Linked DNA regions of Homo sapiens: region 2 is linked to region 1. Evidence: fine-mapped expression QTL. Tissue or cell type: cerebellum. Region 1 holds a variant in brackets; the other region holds the start of a gene. All regions are shown on one strand. Distances are between the middles of the regions.

Region 1 (8,109 bases):
ATTGTTTTAAATCAATGGCTTAATTAGACCCCAGTGGCGTTTTCTTCTCCATGAATCGAAATGGCCTTGGCGTTAATACACATCAACATGTTTTCTCAATGATGCCCAAAAAGTCAAGACAGCAACAAATGTTTCGCAGGGAAGAAAAGGAACTTGTGTGGCTCCCGAGGCCCTGCGAGCTCAGCTGTAGTGCAGGGCCAGGAACTGCGTTGGTTTCCTTTTTTTTTTTTTTTTTTTTTTTTTTGAGACGGTGTCTCGCTCTGTCGCCCAGGCTGGAGTGCAGTGGCGCAATCTCGGTTCACTGCAAGCTCCACCTCCCGGGTTCATGCCATTCTCCTGCCTCAGCCTCCCGAGTAGCTGGGACTACAGGCGCCCGCCACCGCGCCTGGCTAATTTTCTGTATTTTTAGTAGAGACGGGGTTTCACCGTGTTAGCCAGGATGGTCTCGATCTCCTGACCTCGTGATCCGCCCATCTCGGCCTCCCAAAGTGCTGGGATTACAGGCTTGAGCCACCGCGCCCGGCCTGTGTTGGTTTCTTGTAAGACACGTTGCATGATGTGTGAATTTAAGGAGGATGGAGGTCAAGTGTTTAAAATTTCAGTCCCAGGTGGAAGCAAGCAAAACATGCCAGGAATTCAGCAGCTTGGCTGTGGCCTGAGAACAGGTGAAGGCTGGGCTGCAGAACCGGGAGAACCTGGGAGGCACAGCGGCCTCCTCTCGCCGGTGCTCCTCACTGAGCCAAACTGGTGCGAGGCCCACACTGGTGAGGGGTGGATGGCAGCGCCCGGGCAGCACCCAGGAGGCCGGGCCCCAAGGGACCGTTTCTGTCTGATTGACAGGGACCTTCTGGGCAGCAGCACCTGATGCCTGGGCTACCGAGTGGGGATCGAGGCCCATGTGGCTTGGGGCAGAGGCTCCCAGTCCGCATTCGCCCCGCAGGTCCCAGGGGCTGGGACCACCTCAGGAGCCATATGAGACATGCCAGGGGCTTCTGCCTGAGCTTCCAGCAAGGGCCATGGCCGCGAATGAGGAAGAATGGAAGGCGCCCTGGCCGGGAGGGAGGCCACCTTGGGAGCCCCCAGAGCCGCCTGCATATGCGGGCTGGGTGCTGTCCCCTGTGCGGCCCCAAGACCCAGTTTCCTGATGGATGAGGCGCCGGACCTCAGAGGGCAACGTGGACAGTCGGATGCGGCCTAGGGACGAGGGGGACACGTGGGGCTGATGGAGACATGGGCAGAGGGCACCAGAGGGAGAGCTGGGACTGTGTGCTCCACACACCACAGAGAGATGCACACACACCACACGCACACCACGGACACACACACACCACAGACATACACCACACACACCACATAGACGCGCACACACCACACACACACCACACAGACACACACCCCACACACACACACACCACGAATAAACACACACCACACACACACCACGGACACACACACCACACACCATACATACACCACACACACACCACACAGATACACGCACCACACACACACACCACAGACACCAAAGACACACCACACATACCAGACACACACACACCACACACACAACAGACACACCACACACACACAGACACACACACCACACCAATACACACACCACAGACACACACCACACACACACGCCCGCCCACACCCCATGTACATATACCACACACACACACCACAGAGACACACACCACACAGACACACACACACCACACATACCACAGACACCTACCACACACACAAGCCCCACACACACGCCCCACACCCCACATACATATACCATACAGACACACACCACACAGACACTCACCACACAGACACACACACTACAGGCACCCACCACACACACCACACACACACCACAGACACACACCCCCACACCACAGACACACGCACCACACGCATACCACACACACACCACACACACAGACACCCACATACTACAGACACCCACCACACACACCAGACATACCACACAAACCACAGACACACACCATACACATCACAAACCATATGCACACACGCACACCACACACACACAACACACACTACACACACCAGACACAAAAACACACCACAGATACACATACCACAGACACACGCACACACCACACACCAGACACACACCACACACACCACAGACACATGCCCACACACATCACACACACATCAGATACACATATCACAGACAGATGCACACACACAGCCTCCCCTAGACACACCTCCAACCTCCCACAAGAGACACATATGCCCCACAAACACGTAAACACACACTCACCATACACCTACAGACACACACACCTCAGACACACACACACATCCTGGTTCCCCACTGGCACGCACAGATGTCCTCTCACACATTCACACAGGTATGGGTGTCCCCATGAGCTCACACTGGGCCAGTGTCAAAGCTCCTCCGTGGGCTGACCTGCAGCCAGGCATTCCCACAGCCCCCCAGGAGAGGGCCCTGCCGCCGGGGCCCTTCACAGCCCCACGGAGGACAGGGATGCAGGCAGAAGCCAGCCTGGCCATTCCAGACGTTGGTCTCACCATGTTCTAACCCACCACATTATTAGACGCCATGACACGTGATATGCCACCTCCACAGACACACACCACATCACTCTGCCACTTCATGGAAGTTAGAGCTCTCGCCTTTCTGAGCCGTCTGCCTCCTCCCGTGATAAGTCAGTTTTCTGTGATCAGAGAGTGTGCACATTCTTGCCTCTATGTGAAATCCCACAGCCAGTGAAAAAACCACCATATCTCCCATTAAGTGTGGGGCTAACATTTCCTTTCTGCTGCATTCAAAATACACCCACGGCTTCCATCATGATGTCCTTTCTGTTTGTTCATCCTGGTGTAAAGAATTGCTTCTCCAGGCCTGGTGCTTGTCAGTACCCATCAGTATCAGTAGTCCATCAGCAGCATCCCCCTGCAGGAGAACCTCCCTTCAGATTGGAATCCTGCAGTTGGTTCAACGTGCACCACGCTAAGCCCACCACCAGCTCCCAGAGGGCTCTCATTTAATATGTCTCTGCAGGGACACCTTGCAACACAGGAGAAAGGGAATAATCATCTAAGATTCAGTGGAAAACTGTACCCTTGGAAATTATCTACTAAAGGAGGTGAAAAGCACTTTTAGAGAGTTTTACTTGACACTTCTCAACAGGAAAGAGCGTCATAGGGAAAGCAACAGGAGCAGGGTTAAAATATGCACTGAAGGCAGCAAAAAGCAGAGTGGACCGGGTAGAAAATGGAATCAATGCTGCTGGGGAGAGACAGAAGACTTTCTCCCAGAGAGCCAAGGGAAGGTCGAAGCAAGTGCAGTTGAAAATGATAACACGGAAAATGAAAATCAAACCGCTAAACATTATCATCAGAATGTTAGTTCTCCAAATTAATCCAATCCAATCCACATCCAAATCCCAAAGGAAATTTTACAGACTTTGACTAGCTAATTTCAAGATTCATCTAGGAAAGAAAATCTACAGGAAAAACCAATAATTAGCAGTGTAAAATATCAAAGAATATTTGATAACTGTAGTGCTCAAAACATTGTGGTGTTGGCTCAGAAACATAAAAATTCAATAAATGGAACAAGAGGAAGAGCCTAGAAGTAGGAAATGCATGTATGCATCTTGGTGTATACGGTAGAGGTGACATTTTTATATCAAGGAAAAATTTGTCAATTCAACAAGTGGTTTTGAACTACTCCTTTCAAAAATATTAAATATTCTACACAAAA[A/C]TAAATTTCAGATGTGATAAACACAAAATACTATAAAAGTACTAAAAGATATCACAGAACACTTTTTAAAAAATTAACCCTTTGCCCATTTAGAAAAATAAAGTGCAGCTCACTGCTGGCGCTCATTTACTTTTACATAAACACGCTCTTTGAGGCTGAAGCAAATCTGACTGATTTTCAAGGTAAAAGTAAAATATAAAAACTGTTCTTGGAGTTATTTCTAAACAGAGCTAACATCAGAATCGTCTGAATCATCAGAATTGTCAGTTTCGGAAAAATCAGACTCATCAAATGAATCTTCGGCCAACAACTGTTTGAGAATGATGTTCGTATCACATGTGAGAATGCCACGTTTTCTAGGATTTGACATTTTCAGCGATTTTGTAAATGGAAAGTATCGTTACTAAAAACAGAATGCTATAAATAGAATGTCTTTTGTTTCCAAAGTTGATATATTACAGTGATGCAAAAATAACAAAAGCGAGGTATTTCATGACAAAGTTATCTCGGGGTAAACACTGCAGCCGCAAGTGCCACTGCTGCGTCCTCTCCAAGCAAACGGAAAAGGGGTAATCATGAAATGGGGATAAAAAAGGCCTTCTGTGTCTCTAGACAAAAAGGCAGAGCGGGTTGAGGACAAGCAGCCCAGGACACAGCCCCTTGGCCTTTGAGGAAACAGCAGAAGCAGGAAAGCTCCTCTCACCTCTCTCCACCCTGCTCCGCTGAAGCTGGTCCTGAGACCCTCGTGGGAGAGGTGTGCTCCCTATGCCCAGAGGAAAGGAACATTTTTATCTCTAAAGACAAGGACACAGAGAAGATTCAGAACACACAGGCCCTGCTAAGCCTCCCTGTTCCCTGGTTTATTACTGCTAGGCTATCCACCTCATTGTCCAATCATACGTCCCCATTTCTAAAGGTTCCTGTGGCATGTTAAACTGACATTAAATAGATATGTCTGCTCTTCTCCTGTTAATCTGCCTTTTGTTACAGGGGCCTCAGCCATGAACCTAGCAATGGGTAAGGAAAATTAAATTTTTCCTCCCCTACGACTCTCATCAATGTCTATGTAATGATGTCAAAGGCAAAATGAGAGACAAATGGAAGACTAGGAAAAAATAACTTCAACATAACAGAAATAACTTCAAAATAACAGAGAACGGTTCACTCTCGAGACATAAAGATCATGTTATTATATACACTCTATAATCCAGTAGAAAAATGGGAAAAATTTGTAAGTAGAGAATTAAAAGGAAAAGGAAGATTAATATGTCATCAATGTGAACGTCTGTCCAATCTCACTAATAATCCATGAAATACATTATTTTCCCCATAAGTTCAGTAAGACATTTTTCAATGATAACACTCAATGTTTCTGTGCATATGGTGAAGGGCTATGTTCTGTGGGAATGAAGTGAATGGCAAACAGACATTGTGAGGGTCCCACGTATCCATACGTACACACTCTACAACAGTCTCTCTACCTCAGGAATGATGCGGCCTATCAGGGCCTTCCAATAATTACACGTACAAATTAGCAATTAACATTGGTTACCCCTCTAGTCAGAGGTCTCACAATTTCATGGTTTTTTTAATGCTATATATTCATGAAGCACCAGAGGAAAAAAAGCCAAATCTCAAATCAAAATTTTCCTCTTCCAGGAAGACTTTCCTGGTTCACTCTTTGTGCTGTACCTTCTCTCTCCAACTGCTACTCCTGCTGGATTTTCTCCATTTCTATGGCATGAGATGAACCTTGGTTGTTCTTTTTATCTGTGTAAGATTTTTCAGTCCCTTGACCCTTGTCTAGATTCTCTGAGAGCAGGGCTAGTGCTGACTGGCTTGTAATGCTGTGCTGACCACATGCACATTTTGTATATGCCTTGCAGATAAAAACAGAAATGACTTTTATGTATCCTTAGACTTTGATCAGCTTTCAGATAAACTTAGGAGGGCACTTTCTTTCTCTACCAGTTAGATTAAAGACATCACTCTAGGGAGTAAACACGGGAACGCCAAGTGGAAGAATCTTGTGAAGCTGGAAGAAAGAAGGATGTTTAAGTCCTAGAAACCAGACTCCTCCGCTTAGCAGCAGGTGCCCTCCAGCAAATTACACCCCCTGAACCTCACTTTTGTTATCCATAAAATGGAAACAGGACAACCTTTCTCCCTGAGCTAGGACTGGAAAACGTGACAGTCACACAATGCCTGACACAGTACCTGGCCCATAGTATATGCTCAATTAATATGAATTCCCTCCTAGTATACACTCAATTAATGTGAATTCCCTCCTAGTATACATTCAAAGGCCAGGGACAAAAGGGCCTCATTGTCTTTTCAAACTCCTGTCACTCTTTGTTCAACATAAATTTGTATGTACATTAATACAGAGGCAGGGGCCAGGGGCAGAAAATGGAGATCAGGGGAAAAAAACCAAAAAACCTTTGCAAAATGATTTGAATTTTATTCCTACAGTTTTTGCTTTGACCACAAATGTTTCCACATAAAGATATATAACAAATTCTCTTGTGAAACAAAAGATTTAGAAAAATAGAACATAAAACCTGGAAATGTAAACAACTTTTACATGCTCGGAAACTTCCTCAGGGTACAACTTCTCACTTTTCTTGAAAAGATGTATAAATAGAAACATCACTCCTGAATTAATTATTCTTTCCAGGGAAGAAATTGGCTGGTTTTCAAGATTGGTCTTTCCCAGTGATTCACCAGATGATGTGTAATTGTACTATACGATTTGATGGCTTTTTTTTTTTAACATATCAAAACATGTAACATTGTAAAGTTAACTATCTTTGTTTCCTGTGATTAAGCCAAGAAGTAGTGATTGCAGATGAAGCTCAGGATAGGAAGGAGGTCGGTTCGGGAGAGATCGGCCACCGACTGCGTTCCCTGCATTAAGTTATGGACATCGAGATGATAAATGCTTCTCGGCTGTTGTTTTAGTGCCTTCCTTTGGTAAACCCCATTTGATTGGCATGAACAGTATTAGGTAAAACAGACTGAAGCTGCAGTGCCAATATTTTCGTGACTATTTTGCAATCGGCGTTAATCAATGAGATGGGACTGTAATTGCTGCAATTTCCCATGTCTCTTCCTGGCTCCAGAATCACAGATATAATAGCGCTCCTAAGAGTTTCTGACAATCTGCTATTCACAAATGCTGTATTAAATATACCACATGAAACTGTATCCCAGCACTCCATCTTTTTTTCAAACCCCTCCTGGAATGCTGAAGTCCTGGGGTGGCAGGGCCCCAGGAGGAAGCCGTCTCTCCACAGTCCTCCCCAAGCTCCCCGGTGGAACGTCTCCTTGAAAGCCATGTTGGGATTTTGGCCTCATGGCCTCATCACATTTCATGAATTCAACTTCGTTTTGGAAATTTTTCAATCACTTTGGTGACATTGACAATTTTCCATTTCATTATAATGCTACAAAATTCAAGCACCTGCTTTGCTTTTCAAAATGTAAATCTACTGAAAAATCAGAGAAAAAGCAGGTGTTCTACCTTAATTGACAGAATTGAATCTCCTATCAGAAAACAAGCCTCCAAATCAAAACAGAGACTCCAAAGTACCCGCCGAGGCTGGGGGAATGTGGCTCAAGCCCGTCGCTGAAGTCAGTTTGGGGCACCATAGAGATGCCTTCCCGGATGGGTTTTAAGCCTAAGGAACAACAGGGTGTTAGATCAGAAATGAAACAGAAGCGACTCCTCCACACCTAAAAGAAGAATTCAGTGAAACATGGACACCAGTGACTCACAGGCTGCCCCTTCAGGGTATTTGCGTCTGAGATGCGGGGCTGTCAGTGGCCTTCAAGCACACTGAGCTTGGAATCAGGTGCAGAAATTCTATTCCATGGAGAAAAATGCTTCCTGGAAAACTTAATTGTGCTTTTAAGTTTTTTCACCCCTTAAATTCACAGAAGACTCTGTACGACTTTAAGAACATTTTTCCCATCCTAATTCCCTGGCAATCTCCTCTTGCAAATGTCAGTGTTATTCAGCCTGATTAACTCCAGCAATTTCATCTTTCAGTGATGTTCTGCTCTCAAACTGCCAAACAAAGATTCTTCTATTTCATTATTCAAAATATTAAGTGAAGCTCAAAAGCCACAATGATAGACTTTGGGGTAAAGAAATATTGCTCTGTCTGTCAAAAAAGCTGCAAGTTATTTCATTACATAAAATAGTACTTAGGGCATCTAAACCATCAATTCTCAAAGAACAGAAAGGGTATGGCTAAATCAAATCCCAATCATCCATTTTCATCAAATGCATGCTTCATCACCCATCAACCATTTTACCAGAACTTAAAAAAATAATGTAATTAACTACTCTA
Region 2 (8,109 bases), 970 kb before region 1:
TCTTTGATATGATTCTTTTGTTCCCAATGTAAAGGGGCACGTGAACTAAGTTGACCCAAAGAGAGGGTAAGTCAGGTGAAACCATCCCAAGTTTGTGTTATGCCATCCCGATATTGAGTGGTCTAATCTCTCAGCTGGTGTAGTACCAGCATTAAGGTATGTGGACTTTTACTGGAAAGCTCTTCCTATGGCTTTTGCTTTGTAAAGTATCATTCATAGGCCAGTGATGCACACTTGCCTTCATCATACTAGTGCTAAGCACCAATGACTGTCCTGAGAAACACAGACACATTTCTGATATTCTGTCTACTCTTGTCCTTGAAGAGGAGCTGCCACCATGGTAGGCCAGAACCACCAGAAAGGGGCGCAAGGCCACACACCTAACGAGTGTTGTCCTGTAATTTACTAGCACAGGCCCAAGCCTACTGCAAGAAGATGTTTGTTTCATGGGCAATGGCTGGTGATGGTAGCAACAAAACAGAAGAACTAGGGACAAAAAGAAGGAAGTGTGGTGGGAACTTGTAAAGGAAGACCTTCCTCATCTACTGACGATGATTATATTAAGGGTTTGTCTAGATACAGGCCTGGTCAGGTGTCTTGAGAAGGCTGATCGCCTCACATGTTGTTTTCTTCTCATCCTTGTTGGTTCTGGAGAGTTTTAGTTTTAGATCACCAATTTGAGATGAAGTCCAAATTGACAAAGCAGCTTTCCTTGCATGGGTGGCAGGTATCCAGGAATCAACTCCTTTAAGCTTAGTGGCACAAGGGTTGGTTAGGAGTCCCTGATAAGGTTCCTTCCTCCTTGGTGGAGAAAGTCCTTTAAAGGATGCTGTTTCCTACAAAGTCTCCTGGCTGAAGTATGTGTTCCTTGAGTTTTTGCTTCTTGGAGCTCACTGTGGAAAGAATCTTTTACTAAATAACAGTTTTTACTTAGGTGCCTTATGAGGCTGCTGCAATAATACAACCTGTCCCTTTTTAATATCATCGATTTACAATTTCCTGGAGACAATTTCATAGGTCTGTCCGTTATAATTTCAGATGAAGACAGTTGGTGTTTACCCATAAGGGCTGATCTTAGGTGAAGCAAAAACAAGAAAGAGCTTCCAGTCAAGGGAGTTTTAAAACTTCAGTTAATTTTGCCAAATGAGTTTTGATTATTCTGCTTGTGCATTCTACTAACCCAGATGACTGGGGTGATAGGCACAATGGAAATGCTGGAAAATGGGCCAGATTTTGCATACTAACTGGATTATTTGTGCAGTGAAATGAGTGCCTCTGTTGCTATAAAGTTCTTGAGGAACTCCCCAAATCGGAATAATTTTCTCTAAGATAATTTTACTTACCGCCAAGGCTGCTGCTCTTCTGCATGGAAATGCTTCTACCCATGAGAAAATACACAAACCATCACTAGGATGTGCCTGTATCTTTGTGATGGTGGTAGCTGAAAAAATCTAGTTGCCATACCTCGAAAGGGCCTTCTGGTAAAGGAAAATGACATGGAGAACTGGGTCAAGGTTTCCTTGCATTATATTCTGGGAAGACAGCCCTGACTGTATACCCGTGAGCAACAGTTGGAGAAGGTTTCCGACAACATTGTTCTCCTCAAGAAATCAATAATCTTATCAGGGCTCCAGTGAGTCACATCGTGTATGCACGTTAAGAAAGATGGCTGGACCGGGCGCGGTGGCTCACGCCTGTAATCCCAGCACTTTGGGAGGCCGAGGCGGGCACATCACGAGGTCAGGAGATCGAGACCATTCTGGCTAACAGAGTGTAACCCCGTCTCTACTAAAAATACAAAAAATTAGCCCGGCATGGTGGCGGGTGCCTGTAGTCCCAGCTAGTCAAGAGGCTGAGGCAGGAGAATTGCGTGAACCCAGGAGGTGGAGTTCACGCCATTGCACTCCAGCCTGGGCAACAGAGCGAGACTCCATCTGAAAAAGAAAAAAAAAAAAAGAAAGATGGTTGTAACTTAGTTGGAAGTATGAGTAGAACATTTGGTCAAACCGTACATCAGTCTCAGAAGCGCATGTGCCACTTTTGTTTCCCAATTTTCTCGTCCTGTTTTTGGAGATTTAGATTGAGCTAATTTTACATAAAAATCTAACTTCCTTAAAGGCCAAAATGGTTTGATCTTTTTGTTCAGATATGTTTATGGCCACCCTGTTTGCTATACTACCTGCTAACTGGCTTATCTTGCTTTTTTGAGTGTCTTTGAATGGCCTGGAATCTTGATAATGGCTAATGATTTTGGCAATAGTATGGCTTGCCATAATTCTGAAACAAGGCACCCATTTTTTTGTGGGCTGACTAGAAAAGGTTAAAAATCCTTTGTCTCCATAGCATTCCAAAGTTATGAGCTACTCTATAAGCATACCTGCTATTGGTATAAAGATTAGCAGTTATTCCTTTTGCCAACTGACAGGCTCTAATTAATGCTATTAACTTTGCTTGTTGAGATGATTGCTCCTGGAAGACAAGCACTTTCTATTTCTTTGGGCAAAGACGCTATGGCATAACCAGTGTAATACCTTCCAGCTGCATCTTTAAGTAAGAGCCATCTGTAAACCAAATAACATCAGCGTTAGTGAGGGGGGTTCTTGCATGTCTGTCCTAGGAGAGAGCTGGTCAGGTAAGATGATGCAGTCATGCAGCGTTTCAGCTGAAGGTGGGGGAGAGGGTGGCAGGATTTAGATGACATCTGGACATTGTAGTATGCGGCTGAGAGAATAACTTCATGAGAAGCCAGTTACTAACTGATCGTGTTGAGTGTGATGCAAGTTTAGAAGCGTTTCCACAGAATGCGTATCGAAGGCAGTGAGGGGTGATCGCATCCTTGGTGGTTTGGTTGCTCTTGCAGAGCTGTGATGGTTGTTGCATCATGCAAGGAGACAGTCCTTTAGCTGTAGGGTCTAGTTGTTGACTGTAATACCCTACAAGTCTGCTTTGTCTCCATGTTTTTGAGTCAGAACGACAACAAACGTTTTACTTGCCAACAATTCTGCAACCTGAGCTGGACCCAGGCCCGACGGGCTTTGCAGACAGTCACGTGTGTGGCTGGCCTCAGCTGGGATGTTGGGATAGCTGGGTTGTCCTCCCTCTTCCATTTCATAGGATCTCGGGATCTCTTTCCATCATTTTTCCTTAGGAAGTTGGCCTTTTAACATGGTAGCTCACGGCTCCCAAGCGTGCACCCATGTGTAAGCTTTAACGATTGCACTGAAGTTGGCTTGGTGTAATTGTCTGCTTATCGATCTTTTTCTCGGCAGGTTTCCTGTTCTCTCACTCCGTACGTGATTAATTTATTTTCCCAGGACGTCCCAGTTACCCGGGCCGGGGGGGACCGGCCCGCGCGGCAGTGCGAGGTCGGGCCTGAGCAGGGCGCCTGTTGGATAGCGTAGCAGGTGAACTGCCCACTGCACGTTAACAATCGTAACACCCTGCACCCTTTAAACAGGCTTCTTTTTTCTTTTCTTTTTTAAACAGGCTTCTTTCATCAGAAGTGTGAATCAAACCAATGCCGTTAACACACACACCCCCACACCCACACACCAAATTATGGCCTTTATGGTGCTACCGGCCACCAAGTGCCCTCCAAGCAAGCCCGTCACGCTCGCGACTCCGGGGCCGCTCTGTCCGCGCAGCTCGAGGGCCTCGGGCCACCTGTCGCCCGGAACTTTCTCGGCCGACCGGGCAGCAGCAGGGGGAATGCACCAGACAGGGCCGGGAACGCTTAGGCAGCCGCACGCGCGGCCGCGGCGCAGGGAAGAAGCGGGGCATTGTGGGAAGCGCCCGCGCTTTCGGCGGGTTCCGTTAAAATGGCGCCCTGGTGGCCGGCGGCGCCCGCGCCTTAGCCTGTCAGGAGCAGGGAGCTTGCGGGGCGCAGGAAGGGCGCGGGCCGCGGTCCCTGCGCGTGCGGCGGCAGTGGCGGCTCTGCCCGGACCACCGTGCACGGCTCCGGGCGAGGATGGCGACCCCGGACCAGAAGTCGCCGAACGTTCTGCTGCAGAACCTGTGCTGCAGGATCCTGGGCAGGAGCGAAGGTAGAGTGGCCGGGCGACGCGAAGCCCGCAGACCCGTCCCGGGGGCTGCTCCCTGCGCGTGCAGCCCTAATACGTTCCGGGGCTGGAGGAACGAGGATGCAGGGCCGGGCAGAGGGCTGGGGGACGGGCCGAGGACGTGGGGCCCGGACGAGGGAGCGGAGGGCTGGGGTTCGAGGGTCAGGGAGCCGGGGAGGACAGCGGAGGGCTGGGGGCCAGGACCGGGGCGGAGGGAGTGGAGAGGCCAAGGCCGGGGCGAGAACGCCGGGGCGGGAGGCGGGAGGGCGGAGCCGAGCCGGAGCGGGCTGAGTCACCGCTCACTCCGCTCGCGGGTCCGTCAGTGAGGACGGGAGGAATGCCAGCTCGCCAATTTATCCCCCTTCTCTGGTGTCACGCGCCGTGGGAGGGCGCCTCTGCGCGCCTTTGGGTTCATCCTGTGGGGTGGAGAGAGCGGCTGCGCCGCGGAGGTGGATGCGGGGTGCTGGAGTGTCACATCATCGTCCCTTTTCGTTAGGAAAGTTTAACAGGCTTGAGTATTATGGGAAGAGGGTGTTAACGACTGTAACTGCCGTGTTTTCCTACTGTTTAAAGGGTTGAAGGTTGGATTTGATATAAAACTATTCTGGGAAAGTTCACATGGCGAATATTGTTACTAATAAGCAAAACTAATCCTATACGGTAGGTAAAACCATTTTGTAGTCGAGGTACTTTGAAAGAAATGGTACAGGATGCCATTTCTTGCTCCTTGTTTTGGCCAGGTTGGTGGGGCAGAGAGTGAGGATGCACCATGAGGGAATTTTCTGAGTAATGGAAGCAACTGAGTTACATCTTAAGCACCAAAATGTGGAAAAGAAGTTACTCAATTTTTGAAGGAAGACTTCAAAGTTACATTTAAAGTACTGAGAATGCATTTTGACCTTTCATGCTTCATGACAATTACTGTACATAATTCATTGGATGTTCTATGATAATCTTGGGGCAATCATGAATAATTTTGTGTCGCTATTAAATGAGTGACTTCACACAGTTCTTGCTGCATCTTGTAAAGTTTGATTCTATCACTTTATTTATCTAAGAAATCTTTGAGGACAACCCCGTCCTCAAAGTTCCCCCCGGGAACTGTGCTAAGTGCTGGTGATGCAGATGCACAAGTCATTCCTCCCACAGATCTGACAGACACTCTACTGGAAGAGACAGATGATAAACCAGCCATGTTAATTAGCAATAAGTACTGTGGCGAAAAAGTAGGGTAAAGGAATAGAGAGGGAAGAGGCAGGTGAGGGAAAGCCTCTGAGATATTTAAAGAGACCTGAATGGAGTAAGGGAGGGCCATTTGAACATCTGGGGAAGGTTCTGAGTAGAGAGAACCAGTGGAAAGGTCTTGAGGTATGAGCATGGCCTGCCATCGTTTGTTTTTGTCATTAGCAGACTGAGTTTCCTTTCACATGTTTCATGTTCCTCGTCATAGGGGGAATCAGATAAAACTAAGATTGTTAGGACTTACCCACCTTAATGTCAGTGTTTTCCTTATACCAGTGGTTCCAGAGTTTTTTTTTCTAGGGATAAACCACACATTCATACATTCCCATTGTTATAATTGGATTTTGAAATTCATTCATCATGAGCTAGAATGATATTTCTCAACCTAAGAACTTTTTTTTTTTTTTGAGACAGAGTCTCACTCTGGTCGCCCAGGCTGGAGTGCAGTGGTGTGATCTCGGCTCACTGCCAAGCTCTACCTTCCGGGTTCATGCCATTCTCCTGCCTCAGCCTCCCGAGTAGCTGGGACTACAGGCGCCCGCCACCACGCCTGGCTCATTTTTTGTATTTTTAGTAGAGACGGGGTTTCACTGTGTTAGCCAGGATGGTTTCGATCTCCTGACCTCGTGATGCACCCGCCTCGGCCTCCCGAAGTGCTGGGATTAGAGGTGTGAGCCACCGCGCCCAGCCAAAAACTTTTTTTTTTTTACATTGAAGATTCTTTGATATAAAAGTTTTGTCCCTTCTAAGAGACTGAAAAGCTTCTTTTCAGCAAAATTCTGTATCCTACTATCTTCCCATTTAGAACTGTGTCTAAAAGTGGGCTCTCAGATCCTGACAGGGTCCTCTCTGAATAAATAATTTATTTATTTATTTATTTGAGATGGAGTCTTGCTCTGTCACCTAGGCTGGAGTGCAGTGGCATGATCTGGGCTCACTGCAACCTCTGCCTCCTTCAAGTGATTCTCCTGCATCAGCCCCCCAAGTAGTTGGGATTACAGGTGTATGCCAGCACTCCTGGCTAATTTTTGTGTTTTTAGTAGAGATGGGGTTTCACCATGTGGCCAGGCTGGTCTCCAACTCCTGACCTCAAGTGATCTGCACCCCACCCCCCTGCCGCTTGGCCTCCCAAAGTGCTGGGATTACAGGCACGAGCCACTGCGCCCGGCCCTCTCTGAATAAATTATGTCATGAAGTCCATTAAAGGTGATGCTCTTTTTGCTATGTTCTAGATAGCTAGGATTGTCAAGCATTTATGATATAATTTTAAATTATGCTGCTATTTACTGAAGAATTTATAAATAGTAGCTTACCTTGTTCTTTCATTTGTTATACCTTAGTGAGCAAAGGAGCAATATTAATTACTACCTTTACAATATTTGGTGTTAAAAATTTGATTAGTGAGCATTTTATCTGGTAACTCCATAGAATATTTGATTAATTACCTTATTCTTTGATGACATATTACAATTGGCCTTATGCTTTTGTAATACATTTTTTTTAGTACTATGAAATCAAGGCATAATAGGTACTTGTTACTTTTAATGAGAATTTCATATGAATCACATTTTTATAAGGTATCTTTTAAAAAATTATACAGTTGACTTCAAGGGACCTTCAGAAGCAAAGCACCTACATATAATGGTGCTTGACAGTTTTACAAAGTTAGCATGACCATGATTTACCACCTTTTCCAACTTATAACATCTGTGAATTTGCTTGAAACACATACTGCCAGCCAGTCATAGTCAAATCCTGTCTCCATATCCCTGCCCCTCCTGGGAGCACATTTATTTATTATGTCTTTGCGTAATTATTCTTATCATTGGAAACAGTGTGCTTGATGTTAATGTTCAAATCTGTCAGAGGTAACACTTCTTTTCATAGCTACTTTGTAATCCTTTTTCTAACTATGAGGTAAAGAATACATAAAGAGGAATTTATATTAGATAAGTATTTCATCATAAATGTTCAGGTATGACTACAGTACACAGCATATTCGAAGATGATTGCCATAATATGCAAGACCTCTATGAGTGTCCTACAAGCCACTATCAGAAGATAAAGGATTATTGTTTTGGTGATTCAGTACCACAAGTGGTGTTGCTATTGGTTTCATGATTTTCCAAAATGGTAAAGAGCTTTTGATGAAGTTCCAAATACCATGTGATCTTCCTTTGGTTATATAATTACATTCTTGGGAAGATCAATGTGTATTACATGTATATTAAGATATACATTAGATGTGTATTAAAACTTCAGAGTTTCAGGCTTTGTTTCAAGTTGTACTTGATGGATTTACTATTTTTCAATAAGTTAAAATTTAAAAATTGTTTTGGCTTAAATTTCTAATATGGTAACTGTGGATAGATATAACCTACATAAACAAAAGCTTTTTGGAGTTCTCAATCGTAATAGTGTAAAGAAGCCCTGAGACCAAAGAGTTTGAGAACCACGCATCTAGAGTAATGTTTTTGTTGTTTTAGAGCATTGCTTTTCAACTAGAGCCATGCATTGGAATCGCCTGTGATTTCACAAGAACCTGATAACGTTGATTGCCTGTGGGAAGGGGAGCTGGTGGCCAGTGGTTGAGAACAGGACTTTTTATGGTATCTAACTTCATGCCTTTTCATTTTAAACTCTCTAAATGTGGGACTTACTCAGAATTAATATTGTGGGCTTCATCTCTAGGGCTTCTGATCCTGTAGGTGTCTGTTGGAGCTTGGCATCCGAAACATTAAAATGCGTGATAAGTTACTCTGACTTGCATCTGGAGTCAAGGGTGGCTAGTGTATGTGCTCTGTTCCTC

The links. PIP is the estimated chance that this variant, and not a neighbour inherited with it, causes the effect.
Region 2: TUBGCP3 starts here. The variant in region 1 is fine-mapped to the expression of TUBGCP3 in cerebellum (GTEx, PIP 0.99).

What each region holds. Positions count from the first base shown.
Region 1 is chr13:111,615,097-111,623,205 of GRCh38, reverse strand. All of the region lies in intron 1 of LINC02337 (long intergenic non-protein coding RNA 2337), which reads right to left. Among named protein-coding and RNA genes, the nearest start is that of LINC02337, 23 kb to the right of the region's middle. RefSeq lists enhancers at 562-1,086, 1,087-1,612, 6,465-7,486. The variant A/C (reference allele first, on the strand shown) is at 3,755.
Region 2 is chr13:112,583,839-112,591,947 of GRCh38, reverse strand. TUBGCP3 (tubulin gamma complex component 3) reads left to right here and starts at 3,795. Exons shown (of 22, transcript NM_006322.6): 1 at 3,795-4,043. The coding sequence starts at 3,968. LOC124903251 (a long non-coding RNA gene) reads right to left here and starts at 3,762. Exons shown (of 2, transcript XR_007063945.1): 1 at 2,532-3,762; 2 at 1-1,934. RefSeq lists an enhancer at 2,980-3,799 and silencers at 3,865-4,084, 4,115-4,174, 4,205-4,324.